Regions from separate parts of the Homo sapiens genome. Here region 1 is linked to region 2. Evidence: fine-mapped expression QTL. A gene starts in region 2. The other region holds a variant in brackets. All regions are shown on one strand. Distances are from middle to middle. Region 1 overlaps MROH6 (maestro heat like repeat family member 6). Region 2 holds the start of EEF1D (eukaryotic translation elongation factor 1 delta).

The links. PIP is the estimated chance that this variant, and not a neighbour inherited with it, causes the effect.
Region 1: its variant is fine-mapped to the expression of EEF1D in whole blood (TOPMed, PIP above 0.99).

Annotation. Positions count from the first base shown.
Region 1 is chr8:143,566,180-143,571,532 of GRCh38, forward strand. It overlaps MROH6 (maestro heat like repeat family member 6), which reads right to left. Exons shown (of 14, transcript NM_001100878.2): 4 at 4,698-4,815; 5 at 4,294-4,478; 6 at 4,064-4,201; 7 at 3,772-3,886; 8 at 3,518-3,661; 9 at 3,262-3,435; 10 at 2,373-2,540; 11 at 1,963-2,082; 12 at 1,607-1,709; 13 at 1,432-1,497; 14 at 13-1,286. The coding sequence ends at 1,060. Among named protein-coding and RNA genes, the nearest start is that of MROH6, 3.9 kb to the right of the region's middle. RefSeq lists an enhancer at 5,102-5,353. The variant T/C (reference allele first, on the strand shown) is at 2,201.
Region 2 is chr8:143,594,451-143,599,749 of GRCh38, forward strand. It overlaps EEF1D (eukaryotic translation elongation factor 1 delta), which reads right to left and starts at 2,965. Exons shown (of 10, transcript NM_001130053.5): 1 at 2,898-2,965. It overlaps TIGD5 (tigger transposable element derived 5), which reads left to right and starts at 3,381. Exons shown (of 1, transcript NM_032862.5): 1 at 3,381-5,299. The coding sequence starts at 3,454. RefSeq lists an enhancer at 1,613-2,212.

The DNA.
Region 1 (5,353 bases), 28 kb before region 2:
GATGCCCAACGCTTTCCATCCACGTGTGTTTATTTTAGATGCTTTCTGTGTGGGAGCTGGGGAGACAGGTCAGTAGGACCCCACGCCTGTGCCTGAGGGGCCCCAGTCTGGGCAAGTGGTCCCAGCCCTTCACAAGGCTGCACACACTCCCTGTGCACTCGCAGAGGCTTCTCTGAGGAGGAGGCTGTGAAGGAGGCCACGAATGCAAGGACATTTCCAGGCAGGCATCCTAGGTGCAGGGACCTGCCGCCCAAAGCCAGAGAGGTGAGGTCACAGCATCAGTAGCTCCCAGAGCAGCCTCTTCCTCATGTGTCCAGTGGCGCGTTCCTCATTCAGCCCTGGGAGAGGTGTTGGGGTAGTGTCACAAGTGCTCGGTCTGATTGGGCGTGCACACAGGACCCCTACATCTGGACCCCCAGGTGTGATCTGGGGCCTACGTGGTCCAGCTTGGGAGGACGCCGGGGCCAGCTTCTGGAGAAGGCCAGGCTCCCATGAGGCCTGACATAATGAACAGGGGGTGATGATGGCCTGGCTGAGAGGGCACAGCAGGTGTGGCCGGGAGACAGGTCAATAATTTTGAGCAGAGAGGATGCCCGCCAGGAGCCTTAGGATGCTGGCAGGGAATGGGGTGAGGGATGAGGATCGGGGGTGCAGCTGCAGGGCTGGCCAAGGCCCGGACAGGCCACAGCGTCCTGTCCAGGCATGAGGTGGAGACCCAGGAGGGCAGGCTATGGGACCACCAACTTTGGGGTCCCCCAGCAGACTCAAGAGGCCAGGTGCCATCTGGGCCAGGAGCCAGGCCCAAGGTTGGGGCATGGGGCATGCTCCAGGGGGCTGTGAGAACAAGAGCCCTGACGGGGACAGATGGGTGCTGGCTGTCCCCCTCTGTCACCATCAGGGTGGTGGGTGCCTGAAGAGGGGTCACGGGGGTGGGGGGTGGGGGAGGGCATTGGCGTCCAGCACCAGGCCCAGGGAGCCCCTCCGTCAGGGCGGGGACAGGCTGCTATGCGCGTGGGGTGCCCGAGTCGGACCCTGGCCCTCGGGCCCCAGCCCCGAGCCTCAGGCTCGGCGGGGTCCGGAGCAGCCCCAGCGGCCCGCGACGCTCCGGCGCTGGAAGGGGCTGTCGGCGAAGACTGGTGGGGGCCGGGCGGGGCGCGGGGCGATGCGGAGAAGGCGGGGCCCGCGGGGGCAGCCCCGGGCACGGGCCAGCATCGCCACCTGCTGAGCGGACACGTGCGCTGCCGCGGCCACAGCCGGCTTGGGGTCGCTCTGCAGTCGCCCTAGGTCTGCGAGGAGATCGCGGCTCAGGCTGGGGAGCCCAGGAGGGCCGAGTGCCCGGGCCCCTGGCCCTCCACCCACCGCTCCCGTCCACTCCGCCCTAGCACCAGCCACGTCTCCAGGACACCATCCCCTGGCAAGGTGGGGCCTCACCCTGGAACAGGGAGTCCAGCAGGTCCTGGTTGACACAGCCGGGGCTGGCGTGGTGGACAAGGAAGCCTGGACCACAGCAGATGCATGAGTGCAGGCCCCACAGCCCCCCAGGGGGAGGCTGGCCCAGCTCCCAAAGCCCCGGTGCCAGGGGCAGTGTGACCCCGGGCGGCCTCACCTATAAGCACGGCGGCTGCCCGGCGCAGGGGGTCCTGTGGACTCCGCAGGTAGCCCTGGGTCTGGCTCAGGAAGTTGGGCACGTGGCCTGGGTATCGCTGAACCTGGGGACAAAAGGGCTAGTGGCAGGACAGGAGGGCTGATCCTGAGTGCGGAGGAGGCTGCAGAGCTGAATCCAGGGGCCGGGGTTCCAGGGGAGCCCCCAGGGCAGGTGGCATGGTCGGAGACCTTGGACTTGCCCCACCAGTAGCCTATCTGGTTTGGCTGCAGTAGAAACGGTTGGGGGCCCCGGTGAACCCTGGAACAAGTGGGCTGCTGATCATACCCCCTTGCGGTCACCTTGCTTCCCCTACTGACCAGGCGGCAGCAGAGGTGGCTCAGGGCCTCGGGGCTGTCATAGTGGGCCACGGTGACCAACTCCTCCAGCAGGCCCCAGCAAAAGGCGTGGTCACAGCGGGCCAGGGTCCACTCTGAGCTCTGGGATAGGGGAAGTGAGCCGGGTCAGGGGTCCAGGAAGTAGAAAGGCAAAAGGTGGGGTGGGAAGAGGGGGAGCAAGGGCATCGGGTGAGGGGCAGAAGAGCCCAGGGCAGGAGAC[T/C]GGATTGATTCTGCTCAAGGGAAGAGCAGTAGTAACCTGGCCGCCCGTCACACCTGCCACTGAGGTCCTTGGGATGGGTGAGTCCCTGACCTGTAATTGTCGGAGGGGAGGCACGGTGGGAGTGGTGAGTGTTGGATGGCATAGGGGTGGGATGGTGTCGGGGGCTGCTGACCTCAGCAGCGTCCCTGCTGGGGTCATGCAGGCGCAGCAGCAGCGGCACGAGACTCTGCAGCACCAGCTTCCGCAGGGGGCCGCGGAGCCCCAGCCGGAGCCCGCCCCGGCCCCGGCGCACCAGAGTCCCAAGGAGCCCGACGGCCGAGGCGCGGATTGAGTCCCGTGTCTGCGTGGGAGGGCGCAGTCAGGGCAGGCGGAGACAGAGAGGGGCTGCAAGGGTGGGAGGGGGCGGCCAGCGCGGAGCGAGGAAGCGGCGGGTCTAGGGAAGGCTGCTGACTCGGTGTGATCTGGGGACAGGGAACAGGGCCTGGAGCTGGACCTGGTTGGGAAGCCTGGAGAGCCCCTGCAGGGGGTGGGGCTTGAAGGGATGGGGTCCGGAAGGAAAAGTCGAGCGGGGAGGAGCTTGGCGGGACACGGCCCTGGAGGGGCGGAGCTGGGCGACAGCAGGCGGGAGGGGCGGGGGCGGTCAGGAGGGAAGAAATCTGGGACGGAGACACTGGGGGGACGGGGCCTGGGAGGGAGAAACTGGAGGGGCGGGGCGGAGCCTGGGAGGTCAGGGCCTGGGAGGGACAGACTGACAGACTGGGGGGCGGGGCATGGGAAGGAGAAACTAGAGGGGCGGGCGGGGCCTGGGAGGCGGGGCCTGGGAGGGAGAGACTGTAGGGGCGGGGCGGGGCATGAGAGGGAGAAACAGGAGGGGCGGGGCGGGGCCTGGGAGGGAGACTGGGGGCGGGGCCTGGGAGGGAGAGACTGGAAGGGCGGGGCGGGGCCTGAGAGGGCGGGGCCTGGGCGGGAGAGACGGGGGCGGGGCCTGGGAGGGAGAGACTGGAAGGGCGGGGGCGGTGACAGCGGCAGGGGCGGGACCCGGAGGCGGGGCGTTTGCTCACGTCGTCCAGTAGCGGAGGGAGGCGCGGTCCCAGCTCCGCGCTCAGGAGCCGCACAGGCGCCCGGGGCCGCAGCAGGAGCCTCCTCAGGGCGCCCAGCGCTGCACCCACGAGCCGCGCGTCGCCTTCGCCCAGTGCGCCCAGGAGCGCCGGCAGCAGCGTGCTCACGTGCCGCACCTGCTGGGACTCGGGGTCAGCCTCTTGCAGACCTCGCCGCGACCGGGCCAAGCCCCTCTCCACCCCTCCCCTTCTCTCACACCTTCCTGCGATTCAGCGCGAGGTGGCCCAGGCCCAGCAGGCCCAACCAGCGCACAGTGGGTTCGGGGTCTCCCTGCCAGGTGAGGAGTCGCTCCAGGATGACCTCCTCCCGCAGGAGCCGTGCGGTGGGCCGGCTCTGCAACAGCTAGGCGAGGCACATGGGGTCAGCACGCCCGCGGTCCCCGTGCAGGCCGCTGCGATTCAGGGATCAAGTCCAGGGTCACCCTTCACCACCCATCCGGGAAGCAGGCTCACCCCTGTGAAGAAGGCCATAGCCGTGAGACGCTGCGGGTCGTCCGCGCTGCGAAGCCGAGGGAGCAAGTCTGCGAAGAGGCCTCGCAGGTGGTGGTCGGCATGTGCCACCATAGCACTGGGGTGGGTGGAAATGGGAGCTCTCGCTCCGTTTGGCGGCCTTTCTCCTCGAGAAGACCCCATCCCAACACCACCCTCATGCCCCTGCCTTTTCCCTGTCCCCCTGCCCAGCACCTGGCCAGCAACGACTCTCTTCCTGGTGTGACACCCTGGGGCCCCTCCTCACCCTCCTCACCTGGCCAGCAGCAGGACGCCCTCCAGGTGGGTGTGGGCTCCCACCAGCCTCCTCCAGCCTCCTGCCTGCTCCATGCACGTGACCACCATGCGGCCTCCATCCCCGGTGAGCAGCGCCTTCAAGGCCTCCACAGCACAGCTGGTGGTGGGGACAGTGAGCAGGTGGGCAGTGGGAGCTGAGAGGGTGACAGCATGCTGGCCCGCCCCACGTAACCTGGTGTTGCCTCTCACCTGGCATGGCTATGTGGTGGCCCTCGGTGGGACAGAACCCAAATCTTGGGCATGTCGGGGGAGCACGGGCTGCGGGCCAGCTTGTGCAGCTGTGTGACCAGCGCAAGCAGCAGATGTGGGTAGAAGCCCCTCGTGGCTCCCACGCAGCCCGAAACAGCCAGCATCTCCCCAAGAGCACGTGTGGCCTGTGGAGCAAGTGGCCCACTCAGGCCTGGGGCACGCCTGGAGCTGCACTGGGCAGCAGAGGGACAGGCGTGCTGTCAACAGGATGGGGACAGCCTCAGACACGCATGGGACATTCCAGGAGCAGTTACCTAGGTGCAAACTCCCTATGCCCATCCTCCCCGCTCCTCGCCACCCCCCACCCCCGCCCCCACCCCCTGGTAATGGCTGGAGCCACCTACCGCCAGTGCCTGGGGCTCCGGCCCCGAAGCACCCTTCAGCGCCCACAGCAGTTGCACCAGCACCTGCCCATTTACACGCTGGTTACGGCTTAGGCTGCGCCAGAGCTCGGCTGCTACCCTGAGGGTTTGGAGGGGGCTGGTGTGAGACAAGAGATGGGTGGGTGTCCAGGGAATGTAGGGAGTCCCCAGCCAGGGTGGAGGCAGCCAGTAGGACTCCAGCAGGGGAGGGGCAGGAAACCCCTCCCATCTCCCCCCATCCCCAAATCTCAGAGAAACAAATGAAGGGTTAATTGTGCAGACCACAACATAGCCTATCTCAAGCTGAGCTGCAGGGTGGGGACCCACTGGGAGTCCCGTTGGGTCAGCGACAGTGAAACAAACCTGGCATTATTAAAAAGAAAAAAATTGCCACAGAGAATAAAACCAAAGATAACTTCTGGGGCCAATTAACCAAAGAGCCAGGGGTGTCCAGGCACGTTAGCCCCCCAGCCTCATTCACCCCACTCCGGAGCCAACCCCAGGACGGTCTCCAGGGGAGGCCACCCGAAGATAGAAGGTGGCTCCAAGAGAGGAGCCCAGCATCAGAAACTCTGTGGCAGGAGTGTGGGGGGAGTTTGCGGAGCTAAAAATGAGGGGAGCGGGAATGGATACGGGGC
Region 2 (5,299 bases):
GGAAGGTGAGGACATCCTGGAGAGCTGTGGCCACCAAGGTGCTGCACGGCCTGGAGGTCTCCACACATCTGGGCAAACGGAAGCTTTCTGGGAGGAGCTGGCTCCCAGGCCCTGCCCTCCACGCCACCCCATCACAGTCGCACACACAGACAGGCTCCCAGATTGTCCACCCTCCACAGGGAGAAGTCAGGGAGGTGGGCAGGGGACGGGGTCAGCCACCGGCTCAGCCTGTGCACGCCCACCCCTCCCAGCAGCACCCCTCTCCGGCCCACCTGGCTGGCCTGAGTCTGTGGACTGGCACTGCCTGATAGAACTTTCAGTACCTTCAGTGCCCAAAGGGCGCGACGACTAGCCCTTAAAAGAGGCTGGAGCCCCTGAGGAAGCGGGTCTTTAGGCAAAACCACCGCACGGCAGAGCAGCCACAGGACAGATCAATGTCTTCCTGCGTGGAGTGAGGCCTTCGGTCTTTTTTTGAGACGGAGTCTCACTCTGTCACCCAGGCTGGAGTGCAGTGGCGCGATCTTGGCTCACTGCAACCTCCAACTCCCCGGTTCAAGCGATTCTCCTGCCTCAGCCTCCCAAGTAGCTGGGACTACAGGCATGCGCAACCACGGCCAGCTAATTTTTGGGTTTTTTTTGAGACGGAGCCTCACTCTGTCACCAGGCTGGAGTGCAGTGGTACGATCTCAGCTCACTGCAACTTCCACCTCCCGGGTCCAAGCAATTCTCCTACCTCAGCCTCCCAAGTAGCTGGGATTACAGGCGTGTGCCACCACACCTGGCTATTTTTTCATATTTTTAGTAGAGATGGGGTTTCACCATGTTTGCCAGGCTGGTCTCGAACTCCTGACCTCAGGTGATCTGCCTGCCTTGGCCTCCCACAGTGCTGGGATTACAGACATGAGCCATGCGCCCAGCCTAATTTTCGTATTTTTAGTAGAGACGGGGTTTCACCATGTTGGCCAGGATGGTCTCGATATCCTGACCTCATGATCTGCCTGCCTCGGCCTCCCAAAGTGCTGGGATCACCAGCATGAGCCACCACGCCCAGCCGCCTTTGGTCTTTTTAAGAGAAAAAACTCCACAGTTCCACATTCCCACTCAGCCACTTTCCTGTCTGACCCCTGGATATTCCAGCCCCACTGGGAAACGCCAGCCTGTCCTGCATATCTCAGAGCACTCACTGTAGCTACCCAACCCACCCTGCCCCAGGCCAAGCCCCGCCCCAACCACGTCTTTTCTTAAATGCCACTGCAGGCCAGCTCCATGGCCAGCCCTGCTTGAGGGGCTCTGGCCGACCTGCCTGCCCGGCGCAGCCCCTGTGCCTCCTGGGTGACTCCAGCACGGCACAGGCTTTCTGGAACCCCAGACAATACCCACGCCACACCTCACACGGCACCCTTGGCTGTCAGCGAGGTGGGAGAGCTGGAGACCTGTGGCAGGCTCCTACACCAGCACTTAGCATAACTCACTGCCACCAGCTTCCAACACGCTGATGTCACCTTAACACACTGGCACAGGATGATGACCCACAAATCCTCAATGCCACATTTCCTGTCCTCAGCCCCCAGAAGGCTGACGCCAGTGCACGGCACAGCCCAGGTACTCTTTGTCCATCATCAAGCACGTGTGCCCACCTGTGCTAAACCTTGCAGCCTCACCCAGCAACCCGGGAGCAAAGCCCAGAGGGCCTAGTCCTCCAGAGGAGGCGGGAGGCAGCGGGGGCTCTGTCGGCTGGGCGCTCACTCTGCCAGCACTGACTGCGTGTGAACCCTGCAGCAGCCCAGGGGAGATGCTGCTGTCTCACAGGATTGGCACTGCGCCCAGAAAGCCTCTACAGAGGCAGGTCTAGGAGCCTGGCTGGGCCTGAGGCATGTGGTGAGAAGGCGAAGGTGAGCGTCTACTTCCTCAGAGGACGCTCGGGGGCTCCTTCCACACCTGCCCAGCCCCTCAGCTGCATCCCCCACCCCCAGAACGGGGCTGGGCACACACGGGCTCCGGAAGTAACCAACTGCCTGCGAGCCAGCTGCTTAAGGCTCATGGGGTCCAGATGACGGGGTGGGCGGAGCTGTAGAAGGAGGCTGCTCAGGTGAGATGGCCTGGCCTGCCTCCCTGGGAGGTGAGCCGCAGGCAGTGTCAACTTAAGAAGCACCCCGCCCTGTCGGGCAGGGACAACCCCAAGTTTAGCTACACAGTTCTTCTGCTGCCAGGCGGTCCTTCATTCTGGAAACCAATCCTGACGTCTCATCAGGTCCCCAACCCACTCCGCCCCCTTTGCCTTCTTCCTTCCACTTAAAGCCTCTGAAAGTACTACTTCTTAGCAACAGCATCCCCGCCCCCTTCAGAGACTGCCCGACCACCCTATCCAAATCAAGAGACAGAAATTTTGACCCAGTCACAGTACAGGCTTATTCCTTTCCGTGCTCACTAGCGTCTAAGTTCCAAAAGTGTTGCGTCCGTGCCTATCCCCTCCGTGCTCAGCTGATGCGTGCAGTAACTGGTGCTTGACAAAGACGTGGTGTACGAAGGTCTGCAGGCCAGAGAAACAGCTGGGGCAGATGTCTGGTCTCCCACGGAGACGGCAGCAAACACAGGCCTTAGGCCCCAGCAGCCTGGCCGAGGGGCTTCCACGACCGGGATGCGCCGTGAGACAGTGCTCCCGGCGCCCCCGTCCCGCGGACGCCCTCCAAGCCGGCCACGTGGCCTCCGTCGCCCCGCCTCTCTGCGCTCGCCCCAAGTGCCGCACTTGGCCCACGGCCCCTAAGCCCGCGCTGGCGCACTTGTGCCTCAGTCCCTAACGGCGCGAGCTTCTGGCGCAGCCCGGGCCGCCCGCCCTCCCGGCCCCTCGGGCGTCTCTGTCGCGCCCGACTCCTTCCGGCGGGGGCCGCGGTACTCACACGCCAGCCAAGGACGCGGCGACCAAGGAGGAGGAATCGGCGGACGCGGGAAGACTGATGAAAGGGAGGGCCGCCCGGGCCGCGCACGGGAAATGAAGCACTGGGCTCTACCAAGAGCCACGGGCCGGGGGCCCGGGGGGGGGACGCGACCCTTGCACACGCCCCGCCTGGCCGCCAGGACCCTCGACGCGCCGTGCCCCGACACTTCAAAGGCAGAATTCCGTTGGAGATGACCGCGGAGGCCGCTCTTCCCCGGAGGAGTCTGCACAAGTGCTGGGAACGGGCGGCAGCGCGCGCGCCCCCCCTGCGCTTCGCGGCCAGTGGTGTCGCCGGTGGGGGCGGGTCCGGCAGCCGGCAAGCGCCGAGTGACGCACGAGGCGGCCAGCGCGCAGGCGCGGGGCGGGGCCGGGCCGGGCTAGGTCAGCGCGCGTGCGCCCGCCAAGCTGCGGGACAAAGGGGAGGGACCCGTGCGGCCCCGCCCCCGAGTGCCCCGCCCCGAGCGGCTGGGCGTGTGGCTCCCGCGACCCGCGCGGCCCGGGTCCCCCCCGCCGCAGCCATGTACCCCGCGGGCCCCCCGGCCGGCCCGGTACCGCGCCGCGGCCGCCGTCCCCTGCCCGGGCCCCCCGCGCCCGCCCCAGCCCCCGTCCCCGCTGCACGGCCGCCGCCCCCCGCGCCCGGGCCGCGGCCCCGCGTGGCCGTGAAGATGGCCTTCCGCAAGGCCTACTCCATCAAGGACAAGCTGCAGGCCATCGAGCGCGTCAAGGGCGGCGAGCGGCAGGCCAGTGTGTGCCGCGACTTCGGCGTGCCGGGCGGGACGCTGCGCGGCTGGCTCAAGGACGAGCCCAAGCTGCGCTGGTTCCTGGAGCAGCTGGGCGGTGAGGTGGGCACTCAGCGCAAGAAGATGCGGCTGGCCAACGAGGAGGAGATCGACCGCGCCGTGTACGCCTGGTTCCTGGCGCTGCGCCAGCACGGGGTGCCGCTGTCTGGCCCGCTCATCCAGGCGCAGGCCGAGGCCTTCGCGCGCCAGATCTACGGGCCCGAGTGCACCTTCAAGGCCAGCCACGGCTGGTTCTGGCGCTGGCAGAAGCGCCACGGCATCTCCAGCCAGCGCTTCTACGGCGAGGCCGGGCCCCCAGCCCCGAGCCCCGCGCCCGGCCCGCCCGTCAAGGAGGAGCCCGCGCTGCCCTCCGGCGCCGGCCCCCTGCCCGACCGCGCCCCGGCCCCGCCGCCCCCGGCCGAGGGCGGCTACGGGGACGAGCAGATTTACAGCGCCAGCGTCACCGGCCTCTACTGGAAGCTGCTTCCGGAGCAGGCTGCGCCCCCGGGCGCAGGGGACCCCGGGGCGGGGGGCTGTGGCCGGCGCTGGCGGGGCGACCGCGTAACGGTGCTGCTGGCCGCAAACCTGACCGGCAGCCACAAGCTGAAGCCGCTGGTCATCGGGCGGCTGCCGGACCCGCCCAGCCTGCGCCACCACAACCAGGACAAGTTCCCGGCCTCCTACCGCTACAGCCCCGACGCCTGGCTCAGCCGCCCGCTGCTGCGGGGCTGGTTCTTTGAGGAATTTGTCCCAGGCGTCAAACGCTACCTGCGCCGAAGCTGCCTGCAGCAGAAGGCCGTGCTGCTGGTGGCCCACCCGCCCTGCCCAAGCCCAGCTGCCAGTATGCCCGCCCTGGACAGCGAGGATGCCCCCGTGCGGTGCAGGCCGGAGCCCCTCGGTCCCCCGGAGGAGCTGCAGACACCGGATGGCGCTGTGCGGGTGCTGTTCCTGTCCAAAGGCAGCAGCCGGGCACATATCCCCGCACCGCTGGAGCAGGGCGTGGTGGCCGCCTTCAAACAGCTGTACAAGCGCGAGCTGCTGCGACTGGCTGTGTCCTGCGCCAGCGGCTCCCCGCTGGACTTCATGCGCAGCTTCATGCTCAAGGACATGCTCTACCTGGCTGGCCTCTCCTGGGACCTGGTGCAGGCGGGCAGCATTGAGCGCTGCTGGCTGCTGGGCCTGCGGGCTGCCTTCGAGCCCCGGCCCGGCGAGGACAGTGCTGGGCAGCCGGCCCAGGCCGAGGAAGCCGCCGAGCACAGCAGGGTGCTCAGCGACCTCACCCACCTGGCGGCTCTGGCCTACAAGTGCCTGGCTCCGGAGGAGGTTGCGGAGTGGCTGCACCTGGACGATGATGGGGGTCCGCCCGAGGGCTGCAGGGAGGAGGTGGGCCCAGCCCTGCCCCCTGCAGCGCCTCCGGCCCCAGCCAGTCTGCCCTCTGCCATGGGGGGCGGAGAGGACGAGGAGGAGGCCACCGACTATGGAGGGACCTCAGTGCCGACTGCCGGGGAGGCCGTGCGGGGGCTAGAAACAGCTCTGCGGTGGCTGGAGAACCAGGACCCCAGAGAGGTGGGGCCACTGAGGCTGG